7 linked regions of the Homo sapiens genome follow. The protein of the gene in region 7 purifies or fractionates together with the protein of the main gene of each other region. This does not show direct contact. Each region holds a gene or a part of one and is shown on either strand. Other genes may lie near its edges.

What was found.
Region 1: the proteins of SCARB2 (region 7) and MKI67 purify together in Homo sapiens (affinity purification with mass spectrometry; one large-scale study listed by BioGRID and IntAct). This does not show direct contact.
Region 2: the proteins of SCARB2 (region 7) and TMEM59 purify together in Homo sapiens (co-immunoprecipitation; one large-scale study listed by IntAct). This does not show direct contact.
Region 3: the proteins of SCARB2 (region 7) and LRCH3 purify together in Homo sapiens (affinity purification with mass spectrometry; one large-scale study listed by BioGRID and IntAct). This does not show direct contact.
Region 4: the proteins of SCARB2 (region 7) and SF3A3 purify together in Homo sapiens (affinity purification with mass spectrometry; one large-scale study listed by BioGRID and IntAct). This does not show direct contact.
Region 5: the proteins of SCARB2 (region 7) and ITPR1 purify together in Homo sapiens (affinity purification with mass spectrometry; one large-scale study listed by BioGRID and IntAct). This does not show direct contact.
Region 6: the proteins of SCARB2 (region 7) and ALPI purify together in Homo sapiens (affinity purification with mass spectrometry; one large-scale study listed by BioGRID and IntAct). This does not show direct contact.

The regions. Positions count from the first base shown.
Region 1 is NC_000010.11:128,105,924-128,109,423, reverse strand, and holds part of MKI67 (proliferation marker protein Ki-67), read left to right. Parts: coding exon 1-3,500. UniProt on the Homo sapiens protein: Protein that associates with the surface of mitotic chromosomes and acts both as a chromosome repellent during early mitosis and chromosome attractant during late mitosis.
Region 2 is NC_000001.11:54,050,405-54,054,696, reverse strand, and holds the start of TMEM59 (transmembrane protein 59 isoform 2 precursor), read left to right. Parts: upstream 1-1,492; 5' UTR 1,493-1,508; coding exon 1,509-1,697; intron 1,698-4,292. Other genes in the region: TCEANC2 (transcription elongation factor A N-terminal and central domain-containing protein 2), read right to left, coding at 173-274.
Region 3 is NC_000003.12:197,790,060-197,794,053, forward strand, and holds the start of LRCH3 (DISP complex protein LRCH3), read left to right. Parts: upstream 1-1,194; 5' UTR 1,195-1,219; coding exon 1,220-1,481; intron 1,482-3,994. UniProt on the Homo sapiens protein: As part of the DISP complex, may regulate the association of septins with actin and thereby regulate the actin cytoskeleton.
Region 4 is NC_000001.11:37,969,523-37,973,022, reverse strand, and holds part of SF3A3 (splicing factor 3A subunit 3), read left to right. Parts: intron 1-3,287; coding exon 3,288-3,452; intron 3,453-3,500. UniProt on the Homo sapiens protein: Component of the 17S U2 SnRNP complex of the spliceosome, a large ribonucleoprotein complex that removes introns from transcribed pre-mRNAs.
Region 5 is NC_000003.12:4,842,848-4,846,347, forward strand, and holds part of ITPR1 (inositol 1,4,5-trisphosphate-gated calcium channel ITPR1), read left to right. Parts: intron 1-3,291; coding exon 3,292-3,378; 3' UTR 3,379-3,500. UniProt on the Homo sapiens protein: Inositol 1,4,5-trisphosphate-gated calcium channel that, upon inositol 1,4,5-trisphosphate binding, mediates calcium release from the endoplasmic reticulum (ER).
Region 6 is NC_000002.12:232,455,006-232,458,952, reverse strand, and holds the start of ALPI (intestinal-type alkaline phosphatase precursor), read right to left. Parts: upstream 2,801-3,947; 5' UTR 2,754-2,800; coding exon 2,687-2,753; intron 2,605-2,686; coding exon 2,488-2,604; intron 2,374-2,487; coding exon 2,258-2,373; intron 2,055-2,257; coding exon 1,880-2,054; intron 1,804-1,879; coding exon 1,631-1,803; intron 1,389-1,630; coding exon 1,254-1,388; intron 1,159-1,253; coding exon 1,086-1,158; intron 956-1,085; coding exon 821-955; intron 737-820; coding exon 545-736; intron 322-544; coding exon 205-321; intron 94-204; coding exon 1-93. UniProt on the Homo sapiens protein: Alkaline phosphatase that can hydrolyze various phosphate compounds.
Region 7 is NC_000004.12:76,172,325-76,175,824, reverse strand, and holds part of SCARB2 (lysosome membrane protein 2), read left to right. Parts: coding exon 1-34; intron 35-1,511; coding exon 1,512-1,681; intron 1,682-3,500.

The sequences.
Region 1 (3,500 bases), on a different chromosome or scaffold from region 7:
GAGGAAATGTGTTCTTCAGTGCACAGAATGCAGCAAAACAGCCATCTGATAAATGCTCTGCAAGCCCTCCCTTAAGACGGCAGTGTATTAGAGAAAATGGAAACGTAGCAAAAACGCCCAGGAACACCTACAAAATGACTTCTCTGGAGACAAAAACTTCAGATACTGAGACAGAGCCTTCAAAAACAGTATCCACTGCAAACAGGTCAGGAAGGTCTACAGAGTTCAGGAATATACAGAAGCTACCTGTGGAAAGTAAGAGTGAAGAAACAAATACAGAAATTGTTGAGTGCATCCTAAAAAGAGGTCAGAAGGCAACACTACTACAACAAAGGAGAGAAGGAGAGATGAAGGAAATAGAAAGACCTTTTGAGACATATAAGGAAAATATTGAATTAAAAGAAAACGATGAAAAGATGAAAGCAATGAAGAGATCAAGAACTTGGGGGCAGAAATGTGCACCAATGTCTGACCTGACAGACCTCAAGAGCTTGCCTGATACAGAACTCATGAAAGACACGGCACGTGGCCAGAATCTCCTCCAAACCCAAGATCATGCCAAGGCACCAAAGAGTGAGAAAGGCAAAATCACTAAAATGCCCTGCCAGTCATTACAACCAGAACCAATAAACACCCCAACACACACAAAACAACAGTTGAAGGCATCCCTGGGGAAAGTAGGTGTGAAAGAAGAGCTCCTAGCAGTCGGCAAGTTCACACGGACGTCAGGGGAGACCACGCACACGCACAGAGAGCCAGCAGGAGATGGCAAGAGCATCAGAACGTTTAAGGAGTCTCCAAAGCAGATCCTGGACCCAGCAGCCCGTGTAACTGGAATGAAGAAGTGGCCAAGAACGCCTAAGGAAGAGGCCCAGTCACTAGAAGACCTGGCTGGCTTCAAAGAGCTCTTCCAGACACCAGGTCCCTCTGAGGAATCAATGACTGATGAGAAAACTACCAAAATAGCCTGCAAATCTCCACCACCAGAATCAGTGGACACTCCAACAAGCACAAAGCAATGGCCTAAGAGAAGTCTCAGGAAAGCAGATGTAGAGGAAGAATTCTTAGCACTCAGGAAACTAACACCATCAGCAGGGAAAGCCATGCTTACGCCCAAACCAGCAGGAGGTGATGAGAAAGACATTAAAGCATTTATGGGAACTCCAGTGCAGAAACTGGACCTGGCAGGAACTTTACCTGGCAGCAAAAGACAGCTACAGACTCCTAAGGAAAAGGCCCAGGCTCTAGAAGACCTGGCTGGCTTTAAAGAGCTCTTCCAGACTCCTGGTCACACCGAGGAATTAGTGGCTGCTGGTAAAACCACTAAAATACCCTGCGACTCTCCACAGTCAGACCCAGTGGACACCCCAACAAGCACAAAGCAACGACCCAAGAGAAGTATCAGGAAAGCAGATGTAGAGGGAGAACTCTTAGCGTGCAGGAATCTAATGCCATCAGCAGGCAAAGCCATGCACACGCCTAAACCATCAGTAGGTGAAGAGAAAGACATCATCATATTTGTGGGAACTCCAGTGCAGAAACTGGACCTGACAGAGAACTTAACCGGCAGCAAGAGACGGCCACAAACTCCTAAGGAAGAGGCCCAGGCTCTGGAAGACCTGACTGGCTTTAAAGAGCTCTTCCAGACCCCTGGTCATACTGAAGAAGCAGTGGCTGCTGGCAAAACTACTAAAATGCCCTGCGAATCTTCTCCACCAGAATCAGCAGACACCCCAACAAGCACAAGAAGGCAGCCCAAGACACCTTTGGAGAAAAGGGACGTACAGAAGGAGCTCTCAGCCCTGAAGAAGCTCACACAGACATCAGGGGAAACCACACACACAGATAAAGTACCAGGAGGTGAGGATAAAAGCATCAACGCGTTTAGGGAAACTGCAAAACAGAAACTGGACCCAGCAGCAAGTGTAACTGGTAGCAAGAGGCACCCAAAAACTAAGGAAAAGGCCCAACCCCTAGAAGACCTGGCTGGCTTGAAAGAGCTCTTCCAGACACCAGTATGCACTGACAAGCCCACGACTCACGAGAAAACTACCAAAATAGCCTGCAGATCACAACCAGACCCAGTGGACACACCAACAAGCTCCAAGCCACAGTCCAAGAGAAGTCTCAGGAAAGTGGACGTAGAAGAAGAATTCTTCGCACTCAGGAAACGAACACCATCAGCAGGCAAAGCCATGCACACACCCAAACCAGCAGTAAGTGGTGAGAAAAACATCTACGCATTTATGGGAACTCCAGTGCAGAAACTGGACCTGACAGAGAACTTAACTGGCAGCAAGAGACGGCTACAAACTCCTAAGGAAAAGGCCCAGGCTCTAGAAGACCTGGCTGGCTTTAAAGAGCTCTTCCAGACACGAGGTCACACTGAGGAATCAATGACTAACGATAAAACTGCCAAAGTAGCCTGCAAATCTTCACAACCAGACCCAGACAAAAACCCAGCAAGCTCCAAGCGACGGCTCAAGACATCCCTGGGGAAAGTGGGCGTGAAAGAAGAGCTCCTAGCAGTTGGCAAGCTCACACAGACATCAGGAGAGACTACACACACACACACAGAGCCAACAGGAGATGGTAAGAGCATGAAAGCATTTATGGAGTCTCCAAAGCAGATCTTAGACTCAGCAGCAAGTCTAACTGGCAGCAAGAGGCAGCTGAGAACTCCTAAGGGAAAGTCTGAAGTCCCTGAAGACCTGGCCGGCTTCATCGAGCTCTTCCAGACACCAAGTCACACTAAGGAATCAATGACTAACGAAAAAACTACCAAAGTATCCTACAGAGCTTCACAGCCAGACCTAGTGGACACCCCAACAAGCTCCAAGCCACAGCCCAAGAGAAGTCTCAGGAAAGCAGACACTGAAGAAGAATTTTTAGCATTTAGGAAACAAACGCCATCAGCAGGCAAAGCCATGCACACACCCAAACCAGCAGTAGGTGAAGAGAAAGACATCAACACGTTTTTGGGAACTCCAGTGCAGAAACTGGACCAGCCAGGAAATTTACCTGGCAGCAATAGACGGCTACAAACTCGTAAGGAAAAGGCCCAGGCTCTAGAAGAACTGACTGGCTTCAGAGAGCTTTTCCAGACACCATGCACTGATAACCCCACGACTGATGAGAAAACTACCAAAAAAATACTCTGCAAATCTCCGCAATCAGACCCAGCGGACACCCCAACAAACACAAAGCAACGGCCCAAGAGAAGCCTCAAGAAAGCAGACGTAGAGGAAGAATTTTTAGCATTCAGGAAACTAACACCATCAGCAGGCAAAGCCATGCACACGCCTAAAGCAGCAGTAGGTGAAGAGAAAGACATCAACACATTTGTGGGGACTCCAGTGGAGAAACTGGACCTGCTAGGAAATTTACCTGGCAGCAAGAGACGGCCACAAACTCCTAAAGAAAAGGCCAAGGCTCTAGAAGATCTGGCTGGCTTCAAAGAGCTCTTCCAGACACCAGGTCACACTGAGGAATCAATGACC
Region 2 (4,292 bases), on a different chromosome or scaffold from region 7:
TATAAATGTAAGTCTGTACAGCTATGGGCGAAACAAAGGAGGAGTGGTCAGGTACACTTTGAGGAGGAGGCATAACAAGAAATAATTCATAGGTCTTTCCACAACAGAACCTCTAGCACCACCTTGCTATCAGTCCTTTGCACATTTCCTCTAGCCCCAGATCCCCTCTCACCTTCAGAGATTCAATCGTGGCCTGCTTGTAAACCTTTCCTCCAGAATCTTTCTTCTGAGGGCTATTCTGGATTCTAGGCGTTCGAATGACGAATTTATCCATTGTTAGGGGACTCCGACTACCTTGACGTGCTTGCAGCGTGTTCTGGTCAAGAAAGAGGGCAGATTCTAAAACCCCACTAAAGACTGCCATGATATTTTTTCCCCAAAGTAACACAATTGAGTTCTCTGGAAGAATTCATGAATTATGGGGCCTCGAGTGGAATTGACAGGAAGTAAGATTTTCTCTTTAAAAGAAAGATCTTCCGAAGAATTGAAACTGTAATCAATCATCAGTCTACGTCCTGAGTTAGGAGGTTCCTAGCTTCCAGAAGTGCACGCTCTAGCGAGGATTCCAACATTGGGGGAATTGGCCCAATATTGGAATCCCCGCTAGAGCGTGCACCTAAGCCCTCTTCCAAATAAGATTGGGCTGTGAAAGGGTTAGGATTACATTAGGCTCAGTGACGCCCTCTTAACAACCACCTCACCACAGCCATAATCCCAAGGGTTGCCCTGGTAATCAGCAACCGACAACCACCTCCAGAACTCAGCAGAGGGTCTCACAATACGCAGCATCCCCTAGAACAAACTGCTCGGTGGTCAGAGGACCCTACCCACGGCTGTAATCTCTGGATCCCCGAACAAGGAGAAACCCCATCCTCCTCGTTCCCAGCACTCAGGAGCCCGGGTAGGGGCACCCAACAACGGTCTGACGTGAGACCCACCAGGAAAAGCAGCCCTGGTAGCTGCTGTTGGCGCCCTCCAGACTGCAACCTCGTAGGCTCCCAAGCCCAGTCGTCTGTGTTGAAACTAAACAGACGCTTCCTCCCAGGGCGGTAGTTCCTCTGAAGAAACTCCGCCGGCCCTCGCGCCTCTGGGCCACAGCGAACCACATTCCCCAGAATGCACTGCGAAGAAATGCGGGCGGAAGGCGCGCTGAGGGCGGCTGTAGTTTTCCGAGACCAACTTTCCCGACAGCACCGTGCGCCTCCCGCCTACGGAGAACTACATGCCCCAGCCTGCCCCGCGAAGGGAAGAAGTCAGGAGGCCCCGCTTCGCGCTAACGCTTGCGATGGTTGAATTCCCCTCCTCACGCCAGCCTAGGAGAAGAAGTTCGTAGTCCCAGAGGTGAGGCAGGAGGCGGCAGTTTCTGGCGGGTGAGGGCGGAGCTGAAGTGACAGCGGAGGCGGAAGCAACGGTCGGTGGGGCGGAGAAGGGGGCTGGCCCCAGGAGGAGGAGGAAACCCTTCCGAGAAAACAGCAACAAGCTGAGCTGCTGTGACAGAGGGGAACAAGATGGCGGCGCCGAAGGGGAGCCTCTGGGTGAGGACCCAACTGGGGCTCCCGCCGCTGCTGCTGCTGACCATGGCCTTGGCCGGAGGTTCGGGGACCGCTTCGGCTGAAGCATTTGACTCGGTCTTGGGTGATACGGCGTCTTGCCACCGGGCCTGTCAGTTGACCTACCCCTTGCACACCTACCCTAAGGTAGGGCCCGTCCGGAGCGGGCTGCGACCCTTCCCTTGCAGCCCATTTCTCGGCTCCCCACACGTATGTCGGCTCTGGCAACCTGGCTGTTAAATCGGCCCTTCAATCGCTGTCTCCCATCTGTGTAGCTCCTGTTTTCCTCCCTAATCCTGCCTGCACCCCATTTCTGCTGTCATTACCGGAAGTTTGTCCTGCACTACCCTGTGATAGGCTGGGGGACACAAAGATGAGAAAGACGCGATCCCTTTCCTCTGGGAGCTTGCCGGGCTGCAGGGGAGTCGAGCACTCGGAGGAGGATAGGGGAGGATATGGATGATTAATGCGGGGTCCTCACCTAAGGGAGCGTAAGGGGGGATTGTAGAAAGGGAGGCGCAGATACGCGAGTCCACAAATGATTGATTGATAACCCTTGTTTACTAAGCGCCTCTCGGGGCCAGGAGCGCAGTCTTCGGGGAGTCAGACAAGTAGACGATTCCACTGTGGTATAAAAAGCGTCACGAAGGCAGCTCAGGGAGTAGCGAGACGCTCAGGAATGCTGTCTGCCTATGTTGAGTTACTGTGTCCAAGACGCTGCCAAGAGGGACTGGGTTAGAGAAGAGGCAATTAGGTGTCTGCCTACCAGAAACTGACCACTCAGTGCAGAAAACGGGGAATTCGTGGAGTGGGTGAAGAAATGAGACTGTGGACAGGAGGGGGTTCGCAGCTTACAGAGAGGAATGGCCCTCCTCTCTATGCTTCCCCCCTTTCTTTTAATTACATACCTAACCCTCTTCACGTTGGTTTTTCAGCCTAAGAACTCTGTTTACTCAACATTCTAAATTGCTTGATGATTCCCACCACACCTTTCCCATGTATGATTTGAGTATATGCCCTCCCCCACGTTGTTTTATGAGAGCTTTTGTTGATGTTGCTGGTGGTTTCCTCTTCGTTTTTCCTTCATCTCCTCTATGCTATTTGCTTAACCATTGTGGCTGGACCTCCTTGCTCTCTAAAACTGGAGTGGCTACGGAGACAGTTCCAGTGAAGCTTAGGATGTTCCATATTGGCGAGTATTTTCAGGTCTTTGAAATGAAAAGTTCTAAGTGCCGGCACTTCTCAGATTTTGTTACGGCTGGATTTTAAACTGCATGGAGATTATCAATTTTCAAAAAAAAGTGTGGGAGAAGGGACTGTACTAAATTTTTCCAGAGATTTATGTAACAATCGAGAAAGAAGTGAGAAGTTTTAACTTCAGACTTAAATCAATGAATACTGCTTCTAACCACGTTATTTTTCTCCACCTCTTGTAAACTTCTCATCATTAAGAGGATTGTATGAAGAAGCTCATTAATATTGATTTGGCCTGGAATTGGGTTGAGACTTACTTTCTATTGTTCTAGGGTTTGTTTCCTTTTTTGGGATTTTCTCGGCAATTTTGTGGTATAAACCAGAATGTTGGGAAAATAATCAAATAATTTGAAAGGATACCTTCCTGGAAGTTGTAGGTACTTTAATAATGTCCACTATTTTCTAACAATTGGTGTTATATCTATAAACTATTTTTACTTATTTATTAAAGCTTTTCTCACAAAGAACTCCAAATCATCTGGCTCCCTATAGGTCCTGGACTTGAAATTTATATAGACTCCACTGTTAGCCAGAGTGATGGGAGATTTATCATACCATTATCCCTAATTCTCACAACAACCCTGTAAAGTAGGGTTTTAAAATTAAGGAAATTGAGGCTCTGAAAGGTTAAGTGACTTGCCTAAGGTCACATACCCAAGAAATAGTGGAGCAGGAATTCAGCTTAAAACTGGCTACACTATGCTGCCTCCTATTAATAAACTTGCATTAAACATATTCGGCCGGGTGCGATGGCTCACGCTTGTAATCCCAGCACTTTGGGAGGCCGAGGTGGGTGGATCACCTCAGCTCAGGAGATTGAGACCAGCCTGGACAACATGGCAAGACCCCGTCTCTGGAAAAAAGAAAAACAAAAAAACTAGCCAGGCATGGAGACGAGCACCTGTAGTCCCAGCTACTCGGTGGGAGGCTTGCTTGAGCCTGGGAGGCGCAGGTCGCAGTGAGCCGAAATGTCGCCAGTGCACGCCAGTCTGAGAATGAGACCGTGTCTCAAAAAAATAAAAATAAAAAAATGCCGGGCGCGGTGGCTCACTCCTGTAATCCCAGCACTTTGGGAAGCTGAGGCGGGTGGATCACCTCAGGTCAGGAGTTCAAGACCAGCCTGGCCAACATGGTGAAACCCTGTCTCTACTAAAAATACAAAAAAATTTAGCCAGTCGTGGTGGCGGGCGCCTGTAATCCCAGCTACTCAGGAGGCTGAGGCAGGAGAAGCGCCTGAACCCGGGAGACAGAGGTTGCAGTGAGCCCGCGCCACCGCACTCCAGCCTGGGCGACAAGAGGGAAACTCTGCATCAAAAAAAAAAAAAAGAAACATATTTAATTATGTCACTGATTTCTATTGGCTCTCCTCTGTGCTTTGTGCTCCAGGAAAAAGCACTGTGTATTGTAAGAAATTAGATGAATTTTCAAACTCACATAGCGTTTGAAAAACGAGATAGAAATCTCGTTTTAGGCTGGGCGCGGTGGCTC
Region 3 (3,994 bases), on a different chromosome or scaffold from region 7:
ATTGTTGGTAAAATTTACATCATATAGCAGAAATGGCTTCTTCAGTAAAACAGACTGAAGAATATGCTAGAGACTGGCTGCAATATAAGTGAGGTCTAATTGGTTTTAAATGAAGTATTTTCCACTCTTTCATTTCTTGAGTGGTTTCAATTTAGAGCATCTCTTCGGTTCTACCTTTAATTCCCACATTTAGATTACAGTGAGATCATTTTCTGTTCCTCAATTTTGGTTCCAGACCAACATTTTAGATTTTAATACTACTATAATCTTGCTTTATCCAACAATAAAATCTTGCCAAAAGTACAAGTACTATTGAAGATATTTGTTGTATTTTCATTAAGAAAAGCTATTTTATAAAAGGGATGGATGATATAAAATAATACGTTTTTAATGAGAATTTTGAGCCCAATTAGCACGTTTGTTTGTTTGTTTTCTCTCCAGCAACCATAGTAAGTCCACCAAACCTTGATTTAGATCATCTGGTAATACAATGAAGTTGGGAAACGGTTTAGGTCGTATCTCAGAGGGTCCGCTCCTCTCACCATCCAAGTTTCTGCAGCAGCAGTGTTAAGAAAGATTCCTTGCCGGGCGCGGTAGGTCACGCCTGTAATCCCAGCACTTTGGGAGGCAGAGGCGGGCGGATCACTTGAGGTCAGGAGATCGAGACCATCCTGGCCAACATGGTGAAACCCCGTCTCTACTAAAAATACAAAAATTAACCGGGTGTGGTGGTGCGTGCCTGTAGTCCCAGCTACTCGGGAGCCTGAGGCAGGAGAATAGCTTGAACCCAGGAAGCAGAGGTTGCAGTGAGCCGAGATCGCGCCACTGCACTCCAGCCTGGGCGACAGAGCGAGACTCTGTCTCAAAAAAAAAAAATTCTTAATTTAATGCTTAGTCGACTCCTCCACTACTGAGGGAGCAAGGCGGAGAAGTTTTGATGCGGAGCGTTGCCTGAAAGATGTTTTTGTAGAGGCATTTTAGAAATGCCCCTGGGAGGTTAGAGTAGGGGGCTGCTCTGGATTTGTGAGGTCCGTTTTAACTTCCCTTGAAAAGCGCATCATGTGGGCGGGGGCAAGCGCCTGGCTGCGCCGGGGGGCACCACGGTGCTGCCCATCACGGGAACCGTCCGGGGTCGGTCCGTGAGCCCCTTTCTCCGCCCACCCAGCGGTCCGGCCGCGCATGCGCTGAGCTGGCGGGCCCGAGTGTTGTCGGCTGGGAAATGGCGGCCGCGGGCTTGGTCGCTGTGGCAGCGGCTGCCGAGTACTCTGGCACGGTAGCGTCGGGAGGTAACCTCCCTGGTGTTCACTGCGGCCCAAGCTCCGGGGCAGGCCCTGGTTTTGGCCCGGGCTCGTGGAGCCGCTCTCTCGATCGAGCCCTGGAGGAGGCGGCGGTCACTGGGGTGCTGAGCCTGAGCGGCCGGAAACTGAGGGAGTTTCCCCGGGGAGCGGCCAACCACGACCTGACGGACACCACCCGGGCGGGTGAGCGGGGCGGGGGGCGTCTCTGCCCGTCGGAGACCCGGCGCCGGGAGCCGCCCCGGCCGGGGGAGGCGGATGCGGGGGAGTTACAGCAGCTCGTCCCGTAGGCGCCGGGTCCGGACCCGGGTAACGGGGAGAAGCCGACGGCGCCAGCCCTCCGGGCCTGCGCCAGACCCAGAGCCTGGGGAGAGGCGGCGGGCGGCGGCATCTCTCGGGGAAGGGGGCCGGAGTGATTGATGGATGATTTTTTAGGCTTTCTGAGGAAAATCAGTTTCTGCCACGGCGGAGGTAGACCCTTGCCCCGCCCCGGTTTCTGCAGGCCCTTTCGGATTTGGGGTGCCGAATGGACCTGCTAAGACGGGAACGTTAGCGCGAGCTCTTCACAGATCAGAGTAGCAGGGGTGTCTGGACGAGCTGCATTGTCAGGAAGGGTCGGTCTCAGCCCTGGAGTTTTTTCGAAAGAAGTGTTGGGGAGCGTGTGTTTAAAGTGGACCCGAAAGAAGTGTTGGGGTGTGTGTGTGTTTAAAGTGAACCCGAGAGAAGTGTTGGGGTGTGTGTGTGTTTAAAGTGAACCCCAAAGAAGTGCTGGGGTGTGTGTGAAGTGAACCCGAACGCTGGAACGTCTTTCTTCGCCTCCATCTAGTTGACTTACAAAATAAATACGCTTGTAAAAATAACTAGAGCCCACTTTCCGACTCCCATTAGTTTCCTCTTCCACTCCTCATGTCCTCCAAAAAAAAGTTGAAGCAAACTACTTAGAAAAGATAGTCTAACATATTTGTACTTGCTATTCCTTTTTAAAGCATTACTTCGTGTTATGTATGTTTTCGAACACAGGAAAGAGAATAAGAAAGTAGGTATTATTTGGCTTTCTTAGTTGTGGCGAACAGTGTCTGGTGCCCGAGTTGTTCATCATCATGTTTGCAGTGCCGTCATCACTGCTCACTGCAGCCTCGACCTCCCGGGCTCAGGTGATCCTCCCACCTCAGCCTCCTGAGTAGCTGGGACTACAGGCAGCCGCCACCACGCCCAGCTAATTTTATATATATATATATATATATATATATAAAATATACATATATATATAATATACATATAAATATTATATATAAAATATATATATATTTTTTCGAGACGGTATCTCGCTCTTGTCTCCCAGGCTGGAGTGGAATGACACAATCTCTGCTCATTGCAACCTCTGCCTCCCAGGCTCAGGTGATCCTCCCACCTCAGCCTCCCGAGTAGCTGGGACTACAGGCGCCCGCCACCACACCCGGCTAATTTTTGGATTTTTATTAGAGACGGGATTTCACCATGTTGGCCAGGCAGGTCTCGAACTCCTGACCTCAGGTGATTCGCCCGCCTCGGCCTCCCAAAGTGCTGGGATTACAGGCGTGAGCCACCGCGTCCGGCCAATATTTTGTATTTTTTTGTAGAGACGGGGTTTTGCTATGTTGCCCAGGCTGGTCTCCAACTCCTGGGCTCAAGCTATCCGCCGACCTCGGCCTTACAAAAGGTTGAGATTACAGGCGTGAGCCACTGCGGCTGGCAGTACTTGGTGTCTTATTTTATTTTAAAATCTTAGATTGAGCACATTTTCTATGCTTTGCAGTCATTAAAAATTTATAAGTATTACATATGATTCACTCATTTTGGAAAAATAAACAGAACTGTTAAACTAAAGAAGCGATTCTTTCCAAAGAAACTTTTGCTGTAGTTTAAAATAGAAGAAATTAAATGCCTGCTTATTTAATCTCTTTTTGGAAACAGTTGAACTGAATATTTTTTAGTGATTTAAAGTTTCTTGCTAAGGTAAATATGAGCAGCCACTTTCCTTTTGTGTGTGTTCTGGTAGACGGCATGTAAAATTATCATTCACACCTCAGATTTCCTGCTTCTGTTTAGGAGATGGCTATATGGTATAGTGATTTCATATTGGTGTGAGTCATTTCATTGTTACTACATCAAGCCTGAAGCTAAAGAACAAGTTGATTACAGGAGTCTGTCTAGCTCATTTTCTCACCTGCTTTTCAGTAGGTCTAGGAGCACCGTGTTGAGTCCTTAAATATTTTATTGACTAAGAAAATCCAAGTGCATTTATGAAGAATAATAAGTAATACCAAAGAGGTTTTTCCTTACTGTGCTCTGAGTTTTTAAGTATGGTGTTGCCTACACTTTAATAGTTTTGTATAGAAACCACATTTTTTGTTGGTTGATTTTTCATCTGGTCAAAACGTGTAAAAAGAAAATAAAAAGATTACAAGGTATTTTATAAGCTATTAGACTAGATTCATTTCTAACATGTAGTAATATCACTTATGAAATATAAAAAAAAATCTTTGGCAGACCTTGCTCGTTACCCAGTCTCTGTTTTAAACAGATAATTTAATGCCAATGACATCATTTATTGAGTGTTCACTATTTGTAATTCACCGTGTTAGATATTTTGAAATATACTGCCTTGTTAAATGCACACAATAATTTGTGGATTAAATACTATCCCCACTTTACATGTG
Region 4 (3,500 bases), on a different chromosome or scaffold from region 7:
TATTTAGTGAGACAGGGTTTCACCATGTTAGCCAGGCTGATCTCGAACTCCCGACCTCAGGTGATCCACCCACCTTGGCCTCCCAAAGTGCTGGGATTACAGGCGTGAGCCACCGCACCCGGCCCACATTTAAGTCTTTAATCCATCTTGAATTAATTTTTGTATAGGGTGTAAGGAAGGAATCCAGTTTCAGCTTTCTACATATGTCTAGCCAGTTTTCCCAGCACCATTTATTAAATAGGGAATCCTTTCCCCATTTCTTGTTTTTGTCAGGTTTGTCAAAGATCAGATGGTTGTAGATGTGTCATACTATTTCCAAGGACTCCGTTCTGTTCCATTGGTCTATATCTCTGTTTTGATACCAGTACCATGCTGTTTTGGTTACTGTAGCCTTGTAGTATAGTTTGAAGTCAGATAGCGTGATGCCTCCAGCTTTGTTCTTTTGGCTTAGGATTGTCTTGGCAAGGCAGGCTCTTTTTTGGTTCCATGTGAACTTTCAAGTAGTTTTTTCCAATTCTGTGAAGAAATTGGTAAGCTTGTGAAGTCATTGGTAGCTTGATGGGGATGGCATTGAGTCTATAAATTACCTTGGGCAGTATGGCCATTTTCACAATATTGATTCTTCCTATCCATGAGCATGGAATGTTCTTCCATTTCTTTGTGTCCTCTTTCATTTCGTTGAGCAGTGGTTTGTAGTTCTCCTTGAAGAGGTCCTTCACATCCCTTGTAAGCTGGATTCCTAGGTATTTTATTCTCTTTGAAGGAATTGTGAAGGGGAGTTCACTCATGATTTGGCTCTCCGTTTATCTGTTATTGGTGTATAAGAATGCTTGTGATTTTTGCACATGATTTTGTATCCTGAGACTTTGCTGAAGTTGCTTATCAGCTTAAGGAGATTTTGGGCTGAGACAATGGAGTTTTCTAAATGTACAATCATGTCATCTGCAAACAGGGACAATTTGACTTCCTTTTTTCCTAATTGAATACCCTTTATTTCTTTCTCCTGCCTGATTGCCCTGGCCGGAACTTCCAACACTATGTTGAATTGGAGTGGTGAGAAAGGGCATCCCTGTCTTGTGCCAGTTTTCAAAGGGAATGCTTCCAGTTTTTGCCCATTCAGTATGATATTGGCTGTGGGTTTGTCATAAATGGCTCTTATTATTTTGAGAAACATCCTATTAATACCTAGTTTATTGAGAGTTTTTAGCATGAAGGGCTGTTGAATTTTGTCAAAGGCCTTTTCTGCATCTATTGAGATAATCATGTGGTTTTTGTCTTTGGTTCTGTTTATATGATGGATTACGTTTATTGATTTGCGTATGTTGAACCAGCCTTGCATCACAGGGATGAAGCCAACTTGATCATGGTGGATAAGTTTTTGATGTGCTGCTGGATTCAGTTTGCCAGTATTTTATTGAGGATTTTTGGATCGATGTTCATCAGGGATATTGTCTAAAATTCTCTTTTTTTTGTTGTGGTCTCTGCCAGGCTTTGGTATCAGGATGATGTTGGCCTCATAAAATGAGTTAGGGAGGATTCCCTCTTTTCCTATTGATTAGAATAGTTTCAGAAGGAATGGTACCAGCTCTTTTTGTACCTCTGGTAGAACTCGGCTGTGAATCCGTCTGGTCCTGGACTTTTTTTTGGTTGGTAGGCTATTAATTATTGCCTCAGTTTCAGAACCTGTTATTGGTCTATTCAGGGATTCAACTTCTTCCTGGTTTAGTCTTGGGAGGGTGTATGTGTCCAGGAATTTATCCATTTCTTCTAGATTTTCTAGTTTGTTTGTGTAGAGGTGTTTATAGTATTCTCTGATGGTAGTTTGTATTTCTGTGGGATCGGTGTTGATATCTCCTTTTTCGTTTTTTATTGCGTCTGTTTGATTCTTCTCTCTTCTTTATTAGTCTTGCTAGCGGTCTTATCAATTTTGTTGATCTTTTCAAAAAACCAGCTCCTGGATTCATTGATTTTTTTTGAAGGGTTTTTTTGTGTGTCTGTCTCCTTCACTTCTCCTCTGATCTTAATTATTTCTTGCCTTCTGCTAGCTTTTGAATGTGTTTGCTCTTGCTTCTCTAGTTCTTTTAATTGTGATGTTAGGGTGTCAGTTTTAGATCTTTCCTGCTTTCTTTTGTGGACATTTAGTGCTATAAATTTCCCTTTACACGCTGCTTTAAATGCGTCCCAGAGATTCTGGTATGTTGTGTCTTTGTGCTCATTGGTTTCCAAGAACACTTTATTTCTGCCTTCATTTCGTTATTTATCCAGTAGTCATTCAGGAGCAGGTTGTTCAGTTTCCATGTAGTTGAGCGGTTTTGAGTGAGTTTCTTAATCCTGAGTTCTAGTTTGACTGCACTGTCGTCTGAGAGACAGTTTGTTATAATTTCTGTTCTTTTACATTTGCTGAGGAGTGCTTTACTTCCAACTATGTGGTCAATTTTGGAATAAGTGTGATGTGGTGCTGAGAAGAATGTATATTCTGTTGATTTGGGGTGGAGAGTTCTGTAGATGTCTATTAGGTCCGCTTGGTGCAGAGCTGAGTTCAATTCCTGGATATCCTTGTTAACTTTGTCTCGTTGATCTGTCTAATGTTGACAGTGGGGTGTTAAAGTTTCCCATTATTATTGTGTGGGAGTCTAAGTCTCTTTGTAGGTCTCTGAGGACTTGCTTTATGAATCTGGGTGCTCCTGTATTGTGTGCATATTTTTTTTTTTTTTTTTTGAGAAGGAGTCTCACTCTGTCGCCCAGGCTGGAGTGCAGTGGCGGGATCAGAGCTCACTGCATCCTCAAACTCCTGGGCTCAAGCAGTCCTCCTAACTCAGCCTCCTAAAGAGCTGGGATCACAGGTGCACACCTCCATGCCTAGCCAATTTGTAAATGTTTTGTAGAGATGAGATCCCATTGTGTTGCCCAGGCTGATGTCAAACTCCTGGCCTCAAGTGATTCTCCCACCCCAGCCTCCAAAAGTGATGGGATTACAGGCGTGAGCCACCACACCCAGCCAGGAAATATTTTAGAGTCAGAATAGATGAGACTGTTTTCTGTTGTTCTATAATAGCCTCAGATGAGTAATTAGGCAAGTGATGTAAAACCTTTGACTCTTTTCTTTGGGATCAGGTAGAGCCTGCTGATAAGGAGTTCTGATATGAAGGCAAGATTTTCCTTTATTCTGTAAGAAAGAACCTTATCCTTGGAAGTAAGGGGTCAGCAAAAGTTACAGGAAAACAGGAAATTTCCCTTCTTATTCTGCACTACTTTTTTCTGACTTTTCATTTATGGACCTGCTTTAGGAACAGCGACATCTCACTCATGAAAATGTACAGCGCAAGCAAGCCAGGACAGGAGAAGAGCGAGAAGAAGAGGAAGAAGAGCAGATCAGTGAGAGTGAGAGTGAAGATGAAGAGAACGAGATCATTTACAACCCCAAAAACCTGCCACTTGGCTGGGATGGCAAAGTAAGTCTCAGCACTACCACTTTCTCCCCATTCCCCATTTTGGAAACA
Region 5 (3,500 bases), on a different chromosome or scaffold from region 7:
TGATGTAGGTAAGAGTAACAGACAATAATGATGCCTTATAACAAGATATATAGATAGTACGTGTGAATGTATGTAGGTGGGGTAGGTAAGTAGATAAGAAGAATTGAACTAATAAAACCAGAAATTATGTGAGAATATGCACTAAGAGGCTGGAGAAACCTAAGCGTCCAGAATTGTTGGCCTCAGTTTCTTATAGGTCAGATTTAGTCCTTCAGGGTTTTGAGGGGTTTTTTTTTTTTTTTTTTTTTGGTTCTCTTGTAATTGGATGATGACTGCTACTAAAAGGCCAAACACTTTAGCAGTTGCCCAATTCCTTCTCCTTTAGCAGTCACTTAAATGGCAGTGATGTTGACTTAAATGACAGCCATTCTGTCTAAAAGGCCATGGTTAATCAAAAGAGTATCAGTCAAATGTGTGTGCCTACTATATGCTCAGTTGCAGACAATCTTCTCCAAGAGCTTCCCTCATTTGAGAAAAATAATATATGTACACAAATTACTTTTTTTAAAAAAAGTGTTCAAGTATATACTCAAAATGATCTTGTCCGATTTTGGAGATTATCAGTGAAAAACCTCTTCTAGAGCAGTGGTTCTCAAAGTGTAGTCCCCAGACCGGCAACGTCTACATCATCTGGGAAATCGTTAGAAAAGCAGATTCATGGGACCTACCCCAGACCTACTGAGTCAGAAACTCTGTTTCTGATCTGTGTTTTAACAAATGTTCTGGGTGATTCTGGCGCATGCTGAAGTTTGAGAACCATTCTTCTAGAGAAACAGAAAAGAACATTAGATGTGTAGTTGGTACTTAAAATTATCAGGAATATGACTACCTGAGCAAAGAATTGGCCAATAACCCACATCAGTGGGGAGCCTTAAGGATAGGGACGGAGGGAGGGTGGGCGATGGGATCACTTATGAAGACAGATGAATAGGGCTGCTAACTGAGGAGGCATCAGGCCGCGGCTGTGGAAGTGAAAAGGAAGCCAGGCCACCAACTGAAGACTCCTTTGTTGTAAAGTTTCAGAGGTTTCTTCAAGTTGAAGAGAAAGACTAACTGACAAATTGAAAAGTCAAGGAGAGCTGATGTAACAAACAGGGATGAAAATACGCATACTAAAAGGTCATCTCAAATACAAGTAGTTATTTAAAGCAAAATTACAGGGGAAAAAAGTCTTAATGGCCAACTTTGACATTCAACTTTGAGTTGAAAGATTTCAGCAGCTTTAAATATAAGCTTTGAGTAAAGTATCCTTCAATAAGGGTTGAGCAGACCAAGATTTTTTTTTTTTTTTTTCCAAGACAAGATCTCAGTTGCCCAGGCTGGAGTGCAGTGGCATCATCACTGTTCACTGCAACCTCCACCTGCCAGGATCAAGTGATCCTCCCACTCTTAGCTTCTCAAGTAGCTGGGACTACAGGTGCACGCTACCATGCCTAGCTAATTTTTTTTCCCCTTTGGTAGAGATGGGGTTTTGCTACGTTGCCCAGGCTGGTCTCGAACTCCTGGGCTCAAGCAGTCTGCCCACCTCAGCCTCCCCAAGTGGTGGGATTACAGGCGTGAGCCCGCTGCACCTGGCTGAGCACACCAAGATTTCTAAATCAATTTGAACACTTGAGATTATCCAAATTTAGCTAAGTTGTATTGGATTCCCTCTCAAGGTTACCTGCCAAGGGAAGGGTTGTGGGAGAAAAATCTGAGCTAAACATCTGAACTATCAGGTAGTAAGATGAATGAATTACTGGCATTTTAACCTAATTGTGAATTTATTTCATGTGTCATATTAGGTTCTCCTTCCTGAGCCGAATCTGTGGATACAGTGTAGTGTGTAACACTTCCTTTAAAGATGTCACTCACCTAAGGAAACTTCAGGGGCTAGCTGGAATTTCCTAATCCAATTCTTAATTAAAAGCTTTATTAAAAGCTACCTTTTGGAAATACTAAGTCCTTGTAAGTCTTCTCATCTAAATTATAACAGAGAAAGCATCTCCACAGGAGCCTAAAAATAGTATTTTGATTTGAGAGGATAATGCTAGTTTTGAAGAAGAAAAAATAACCACATTGAAATTGAACCTAGGTAAATTAGTCTTGTTTTATGTTCTCTCCAGATATTTTGTACCAAAAATGAGTTCATGTGAAAAGTGAGATTAAGTGTCACATCTACTATGTGACAGATGCTATGCTAATAAATTTGCGTATAACCTCGCAATTCTCCACCAATCAGCTAGGAATTATCATCCTGATTGTATGGATGAGAAAACAGACTTTGATAAGTTAAATGACAAAACCATAAGAAACTAGATCTGATTCCAAAGCCTTTATTCTTTTTACCCTAATTCCTCTACAATTTTAGGAAGCTAAAAACATAGGAGTAGGACCTTAACCCACTTGCAGACAACAATTTTCTTGAATATATATTCCGTATAGCCTTTTTATCTCAGTTGACTTGAATGCTCACCCTAAAATCCAAAACTAAGACTAACTGGGTTAAGGAAAATCTTAATACAGAGACAGAAGTAAGTATGCCCTAAAATACCTAGAACAGGTCTAGAGACCCATCAACATGAGAATATATTTAGTTCAGCAACCAAATGAATAGAATCGGCTTCTTGTTTGGGATTTTGAAAGTACTTTTTCATTTGAACTAGTCTTAGGCAATGGTCTCGCCTGACCTTCAGCGAGCCTCAGTGTCTACTGGGTGGCAAGAAATAGATACCGTGAATGGTCACAGCATTATTTACAGCATTTAATCATTCTGGACCTCAAAGAGATTTGAGAACATTTCTCATTTTCCTAGTTATGGTAGGTAATTTTTTTTTTCTCTAACCAACTACTCAAGAGTCATTGAAGAGAAAAATCAGGACCCACTGAAAGTGTGGACACGAACCCTCCCTCTCAAACCTAGGATTCTAAACACTGCTTTTCTTGTTAGTATGGCGTGTTGTTACTATCGTACAAAGCCACCATTTTCCAATGAGTCTTCAAATCATTTGGAAGTGCATTTGGGAAACAAGAAAGAATCCTGTGCTTTTATTGTTTTTTGTTTCTTTATGAAACAAGTGGCAAGCAATACTTCTGAATGTTACATTGCATGACTAGGTCACAGAATTTCCCATTCTGCCTAAGAAGATGCCTTTTTTGAAGTGCTGTGTGTTTGATATAGCGATGGTACACTATTTGTAGAAAGTGGGTTTCAGTATAAACCATAACCACAGAGGTAAATCTATGGTTCAGTATGCGATTTGACGTACAGGAAGTATCTGGGTCTAATGATGAAACTTTTTAACTTTCCAGATGACAGAACAAAGGAAGCAGAAACAAAGAATTGGTCTTCTAGGACATCCTCCTCACATGAATGTCAACCCACAACAACCAGCATAAGCAAATGAAAGAAAGGAATTGTATTTACCTTTTATAATTATTATTAGTGTGGGTATGGCTAATGAGTTCTGATTCACCCACGAAGGTTACATTTATGCTGAATACATTTGTAAATACTCAGT
Region 6 (3,947 bases), on a different chromosome or scaffold from region 7:
CCTGCGGGCCGCGCGCAAACACCGCCACGTCTTCGCCTCCGTGGGTCTCGGACGACAGGGGCACCGCCGCCTGCTGCTGGTAATCGGGGCTCCCTGGTAGGAGGGTGAGTGCACTTCAGGGCAGGCAGGCGGCGTCCCCCTCCCGCGAATGCCCCCATCCCTGGCACCCTGGTCCCCCTGCACGGGCCATTCAGCCTCACTCACCGCTCTCGCTCTCATTCACGTCTGGTCGCACGCCTGAGTTGAACACGTAGCCCGGGCCATTGCCGTACAGGATGGACGTGTAGGCTTTGCTGTCCTGAGCCTTGCTGGGGGCCAACCCTGTAGGGAGATGCGGGTCCCTGTAGTTGAGCTGACCACAGCTGTGGGAGTGCCTCCTATGTGCCAGGCACCGCCACTTTTTGCCTGTTCGGGGGCTCGGTCCTCACAAGATCCCTATAGGGCTGGTGCCAGCATTGCACACTTTTGACAGAGGAGGAAACTGAAGCTCAAACTTCACCCTCATAATTGATGCAGCAGCACCTGCCACTCTCCCCAGGCCTACCGAAGATGGAGCTCCCTCGCAAGGTGTAGCCACCAAAGGAGAAGACATGGGAGTGGTCAGCGGTGACGAGGGTCAGCGTGTCCTCCTCGCTGGTGAGCTGGCCCGCCCTCTCAATGGCGTCGTCGAACATGACCGCCTCAGTGAGTGCCTGGTAAGCCACACCCTCATGATGACCATGGTCGATGCGGCCGCCTGCAGGAAGGCCAGAGGGGGGTGATGCTTGAACCTGCCCTGCCGCGCCCCGCCTTCCTCCACTCCCCAGGGGCCACCACGCACCCTCCACAAAGAGGTAGAAGCCGCGGGGGTTCCTGCTCAGCAGGCGCAGGGCAGCCTCTGTCATCTCCATCAGGGAGGGGTCCAGTGTGGGGTCTCGGTGGATCTCATATTTCGTGTCTCCGGGCTCAAAGAGGCCTGTGGGACAAGGAGCTTGGTGGTGATTGGCAGGCTGTGAGCGGGAGGGTGCTGGCAAATGGGCACACAGGCTCGGATGGCACCCTCTGAGGTTGTCTGAGGAATGCCAGGGCAGGAAGGGGGTCATTACCCATGAGATGGGTCACAGACTGGTCCAGGGACGCCTGCATGAGCTCAGTGCGGTTCCACACATACCAGGCACCCTGCAGGGACAGAGCCAGGCTTCAGCCCACAGCCCTGAGACCCACACACTTGGCCTCCCCCTGCCGTGCCTCCCACACCCACCAGCCCCCATCACCTGGTGCTTTGCCAGCCATTCCTGCACCAGGTTCTTCCCGTCCAGCCTGATTCCATTCTGGCTGGCATCAGCTGGGTACTCAGGGTCTGGGGTCCCCATGGGAAACATGTACTTGCGGCCTCCGCCAAGGATCACCTGAGGACAATGGATGGGGCAGGTGGTTTGGGGGCCTGGCTGGCCCCGTGCCCCCTCCTCATGCATAGCCCCTGGCTCCCCTCCCCAGGGCTGTGGGAATGGCCCAGCCTGTATTGCACATTCTACATCCCCAACTCCACCTCCAGAACCTGCTGACCCAGATCAGGCTTTTGGTTGCCTGGATCTGAGCCTGTGCCACCTTCCCCTCTGCCCAGCCCCAGCCCTTGGCCCGGGGGTCGCACGTCAATGTCCATGTTGGAGATGAGCTGAGTGGCGATGTCCTGGCACCCCTCCTGGCGGGCTGAGGCAGGCATGTCAGCATCTGAGTACCAGTTGCGGTTCACTGTGTGTGCGTAGGTGCCGGCTGGCGAGGCGTGCTGCACCCGTGTGGTGGTCACCACTCCTACTGACTTTCCTGAGGGTGACAGAGGTCAGGATCGGTGACCGAGATCTTGGGCCTGGTCCTGACCCCACAGCGGGCCCCAGCTCACCTGCTTGCTTGGCCCGGTTCATCACGGAGATGACCTCATTGCCGCGTGTCGTGTTGCACTGGTTAAAGCGGGCGGCTGCACTCAAGCCGATGGTCTGGAAGTTGGCCTTGACCCCGCACAGGTAGGCCGTGGCTGTGGCTGCGCTGTCTGGCACCTGTCTGTCCACATTGTATGTCTGCGAACGGAGACACCCTGAGCTCTACTTCGGGGCGGACACCCAGACCCCAACCAAGGACCTGGTTCTGGTCCTCTGGGATCCTAACTGCTCCCAGCTCCTAACTTAGGCCCCAGCTGTCCTGGCTCCCTCCCTCCTGCCACACTCCATATCCTTGATCCCTCTCCTCTGCTTGGAGGACTCTGAGGTGGCCCAGCCCTTACCTTGGACAGAGCCAGGTATGGGAAGCGGTCCATGGCCAGGGGCGTCTCAGGCCCCAGTTTGCCATTCTTCTGCCCCTTTAGGATCCTGGTGGCTGTCACCGTGGGCACCCCCAACCCTGAAGGAGCAGAAATGTGTGAGTCCTGGGCCCCAGGGTTGTCCTGGAACCACTGAAGGTCCCGGGTGCCGGGGCTGTGAGGACTACGGGGCTGGACAGGCCTTGCTCACTCACCATCGCCCAGGAAGAGGATGAGGTTCTTGGCGACCTTCTGGATGGGCTGCAGCTTCTTGGCAGCATCCAGGGCCTCAGCTGCCTGGCGGTTCCAGAAGGCCGGGTTCTCCTCCTCAGCTGGCCAGGGGGAGAGTAGAGATCAGGTCAGCCTGGCTGAGGGGGTGCCCTGTGTGTGGAACAGCTTGGGGAGCCTCATTACCTGGGATGACGCCCAGGGAGAGCTGTAGCCTCAGGCCCAGCAGCAGCAGCACCCAGGGCCCCTGCATGTCTTGGGGGCAGCAGGAGGGAGGCGAAGTGGGGACACCAGGAACCGGCTGCAGCGCAGGCTGCCTGGGTTTAAATCAGGGGAGGACTTTGCCCCTGGCTGTAAATGCTCCACGTCCCTCCCCACACCCCTGGTGTCCATCTTGACCCCGCCCAGTCCTGTGACCTGAAGCCAAGCTTGCTGAAGGGAAGGGACTGGGTGTGGCTCACAGTGTCTTGTGGGAGACGCGTTGCCACTCCTTCATTCACCTCATTCAAGGTGTGAAGAGAGGTGAGACTGGAAACACACAGCCTAGGCCAGGGCCCGGGTTAGGGCTCGTAATGTCACGAGCCCCAGAGGAGTGTGAAAGGAGGCACACTGGGTGGCCTGGCTGCCCTAGAACCCACTTGGTGTATATGGGTGCCCACACCTATGTCCTGAGGACGCAGGCTGGGAAGGGGCCAGTGCTCTGGGTCAGCCAGACCTGGGCTGGGTCTTCCAGAGCAGCCTGTGCACTTGAGGTTGACCCCTGTTCCCTTGCACAGGTAGATGGAGCCTGGGGTGAGTCTGTTTTCCATGGGCCCCGGGGAACACCCAGAAGTGTAGCCTCTGATAAGGAGTTCAGAGAGTTTGGTAACCTCAGGCTGAGTTCAAAAGTATTGCTTCAGTCCAGACATCCCACTCTGAGTGTGTAGCCAAAGGAATGCGAACTAGGGACTCGAACAGATAACTGCACACCCATGTTCCCAGCAGCATTATCCACAGCAGCCAAGAGCTGGAAGCTACCCAAGTGTCCAGCAAAAGAGAAATGGAGAAACCAAACAGGGTGCACACATACAATGGAGTATCACGCAGCCTTGAAAACAAAGGCGACCCTGACACCTGCTACAACATGGATGAACCTTAGGACATTATGCTCAGTGAAATATACCAGTGCAAAAGAACAAATACGCACGAACACACTTCTCTGAGGTCCCGAGGGGAGTCAAATACATAGAGACAGAAGTGGAATGGAGGTTGCCTGAGGCTGAGGGAGGAGGCAATGGGTTAGGGTTGGGGTTAGGGTTAGAGTTGGAGTTTAATAGGGACAGAGCTTCAAGGTTGCAGGATGAGAATGTTCTGGAGATCAGCTGCACAACACTGTGCGTGTACTCAACACTGCCGCCCTGTACACTTGAAAATGGTGAAGGAGGTAAACTTGATGTACCGTGTTTTG
Region 7 (3,500 bases):
AGGTCCTTTATGTCTTCCCATCTGACTTTTGCAGGTAAAAGCTTTAAAGATAAGTTCTTTTTCAAAAATAAGGTCTTTCACTGCAAGACCACCAAAAGCATGAGGAATATATGCAGACACACTTATTATGCATGGATATTTATGCATAATCAGTGATAAATGCTGATGGCACATCGAGACAGTATAGTGTACTGGTTCACAGCACAGACTTCTGACTGTTGGTTTGAATCTTGGCTCTACCACTTATAGCTGTGTGACCTTGGGCAAATTACTTAACCACTCTGTACCTCACTTTCCTTATTTGTAAAACAAAGATAGAAATTGTTAACTATGTTAGAGGTTGTTATGAGGACAAATGAGTTAGTATTAGTCAAATACTTAGCCCAGGGCCCATCACACAGTAACCAATATTAAGTGTTGGCTCTTAGTTACTATGATATGCTCTGTCAAGCATCAACTGACCTGGTCTACTTCCAGTCAATAGGTAGTCTCTACATGGAAGCCAAATAAAAGATACTGTTGTCCATATTTCAGCAGAGTGGTTTCCTCAGGGGAGGCAGAGAAGGAATGGAATCAAGAGCATTACGTAGACAGGTTCAGTTATATCCATAATATAATTTTTATTTGTCTAAGTGGCAGATACAAAGGTATTTGTTAGAGTATTTTATCTCTTTCTGGTGCCTAAAATTTTTCATTAAAAAATGCTGTAGGGGTGGTTTGGTTTGTGCAGTGAAACCACCTATGTTATTCACAACCTTGCGAGAGATGTATCAACAGCTCTGGTTCAGAGATGAAAAAGTGAGGCCCAGAAGGCTCTTCCGGCCAGCCTTCAAAGGAAGGGCTGAAGGCTCAGTGGTGACTGTGTACATCAAAGTGGTTAGGCACTATGCAGTGTAAGCAGTGGTCATATTACATGGGACTATGTTTGAAATCAGTAAGAATGAAAGGCAGAATTACGTTGAACTCCATTTAAATAAATGACTGGGGCAAAATATGGAATCTGATTTTTCTTGGAGGGGGGGATTGAGTATCAAAGTGTGTATTCCAATAAAGTATCTGTCCAATGTGACACTTTTCAAGTGCCTAAGACCCTACGAGGCCACGGCCATCGCTGCCTGTTCTACCTTAGCTTTGGCTCTGCCGTGCCCTGGCTTCCCTGGCTTTGCCGGTGGCCCGTCCACACTGGCATATGTCCATGCAGGTCTAGAGAGGCCTCTTATTTCTTTTTTATGTGAGTCTCCATTCTAAATGTTATCATCTTAATTTTGTACCACATATTGTTTTTTCTTGTTTGGATGATATCACCGTTGCTACAATAAACACCTTCCACTACAATTCATCTTCTGCTTTATTACACGTTGAGTTGACAGAATGCCTTCCAAACATTCCTTTCTACTTACCCTGTGAGCTTTTGGCCATGTTGTACCTGAGAACTGTTGCTAACTTGCGGATTTCGGGCAGATTACACTGACCAGAGTCCACATTCACTTTTTATTCTTACATCCTAACAGGTCAGTGTATATTACTTTCAGTGACTATGAGAGTGTACAGGGACTGCCTGCCTTTCGGTATAAAGTTCCTGCAGAAATATTAGCCAATACGTCAGACAATGCCGGCTTCTGTATACCTGAGGGAAACTGCCTGGGCTCAGGAGTTCTGAATGTCAGCATCTGCAAGAATGGTAAGAACTCAGAGAGGGGACATGATAGGGGTGTCAAGAATGCAGAAGGATTGGAGTTCAACAAAGAATATGTAGCTGGGCGTAGTGGCGCACACCTACAGTCCCAGCTACTAAGGATGCTGAGGTGGGATGATCACTTGAGCCCAGGAGTTCTCAAGTCCATCCTGGGCAACATGGCGAGACCACTGTCTCTAAAAAACAAAACAAACAAAAAAGAATATATTGTCAGCCCAATAGAAAGATCAGTTTCTTTCAAGAACAATGTTTCATAACATGGCTATTGAATGGTAAAAAAAAATCATGGCTTTTCTGTGATGCTTTTTATTTCTAGAATGCCATGTTGTGTTTTTTTTTCTGGACAGTGGTTTAGAAGTCTTAACAGTAATAATAGCTCATGTTTACTAAGCACCTGATGTATGCCAGTCACTGTCCTAAGTGCTTTACATATTTACATGTAGTTAATGCATGCAAAACATTAACTGATTTCATGTTCAAAACAATGCTAAGGCTGGGCACGGTGGCTCATGCTTGTATTCCCAGCACTTTGAGAGGCCGAGATGTGAGGATTGCTTGAGGCCAGGGGTTCAAGATCAGCCTGGGCAACATAGCAAGACCCTGTCTCTACAAAAAAAAAAAAATTAAAAAATTAGCTGGGTGTGGCGGCACACACCTGTAGTTACAGCTGCTCAGGAGGCTGAGGCAGAGAGATTGCTTGAACCCAGGAGTTCGAGGTTGCACTGTGCTATGATTGTGCTGCTGCACTCCAGCCTGGGCAATAGAGTGATTCCGCACCTCCCCACCAAAAAAAAAAAAAAGCTAAAAGAAAAAGTGGACAACTCAGTTTTAAGAAAGTACGTATCATGGCAAAGATTCTCAGTGATTTTGAAGCAGAGTTAGTTTTAAACCCTGACACAAATGTCCCAGTGTTTCTTAATGTCAGAGCTACTCTGCTCCTTTCCATGAATGAGGCAGAATTATCAGTGGCACAACTGACAAAACTATTTTCTTCATCTTGAAGAGTAGTTTTAACAGCCACATGTTGCAGAATTATTCACAATGAACTTACTAGATAGTAGACATTCAGCGGCCTGTTTTTATAATTGGGGAAACTAGGGCTCAGAGAGGGAACGTGATTTTGATGCGACTCCTCCCTCTGAGCAGATCCCTGGCGGAACTCAGGGTCTTCTCATATTTGCCCTGTGATTCCCTCTTGGGCTGTAATTCCTCTTTAAAATTTCTCTGGAGAGCTCTCTGTGTAGTCCCTTTCTCCTGAATAGTAATGTGCTCACTTTTGCTCCCTTATCTATCTCATTTTAAAATCTCCTTTCAGGCCTGGCATGGTGGCGTGTGCCTGTAGACCCAGCTACTCAGGAGGCTATGGTGGAAGGGTCGTTTGAGCCCAGTTTGATTCTAGCCTGGGCAACATAGCGAGACTCCATCTTTTAAAAAAGAAAAAAAAAAAAAGAATAAGATATCATTTTGGAATAAGTCTGAAGTCAGCAGTATACCTCCTGATCCTTGTCTGACAGGGCAGTGACCCCCACACCTGGCTTTACATCAGAATTATCTGGAGAGTTATTAAAAATATATTGGTGAGGCATGGTGGATCATGCCTGTAATCCTAACACTTTAGGAGGCTGAAGCAGGAGGCTCACTTGAGGCCAAGAATTTAGACCTGCATGGGCAACAGGGAGACCCCATCTGAACAAAAAATTTAAAAATTAGCTGGGCATAGTAGCATACACCTATAGTTCCAGATACCCAGGAGGCTGAGGCTGGAGCGTAGGAATTCAAGGCTGCAGTGAGCTATGATTGCAAC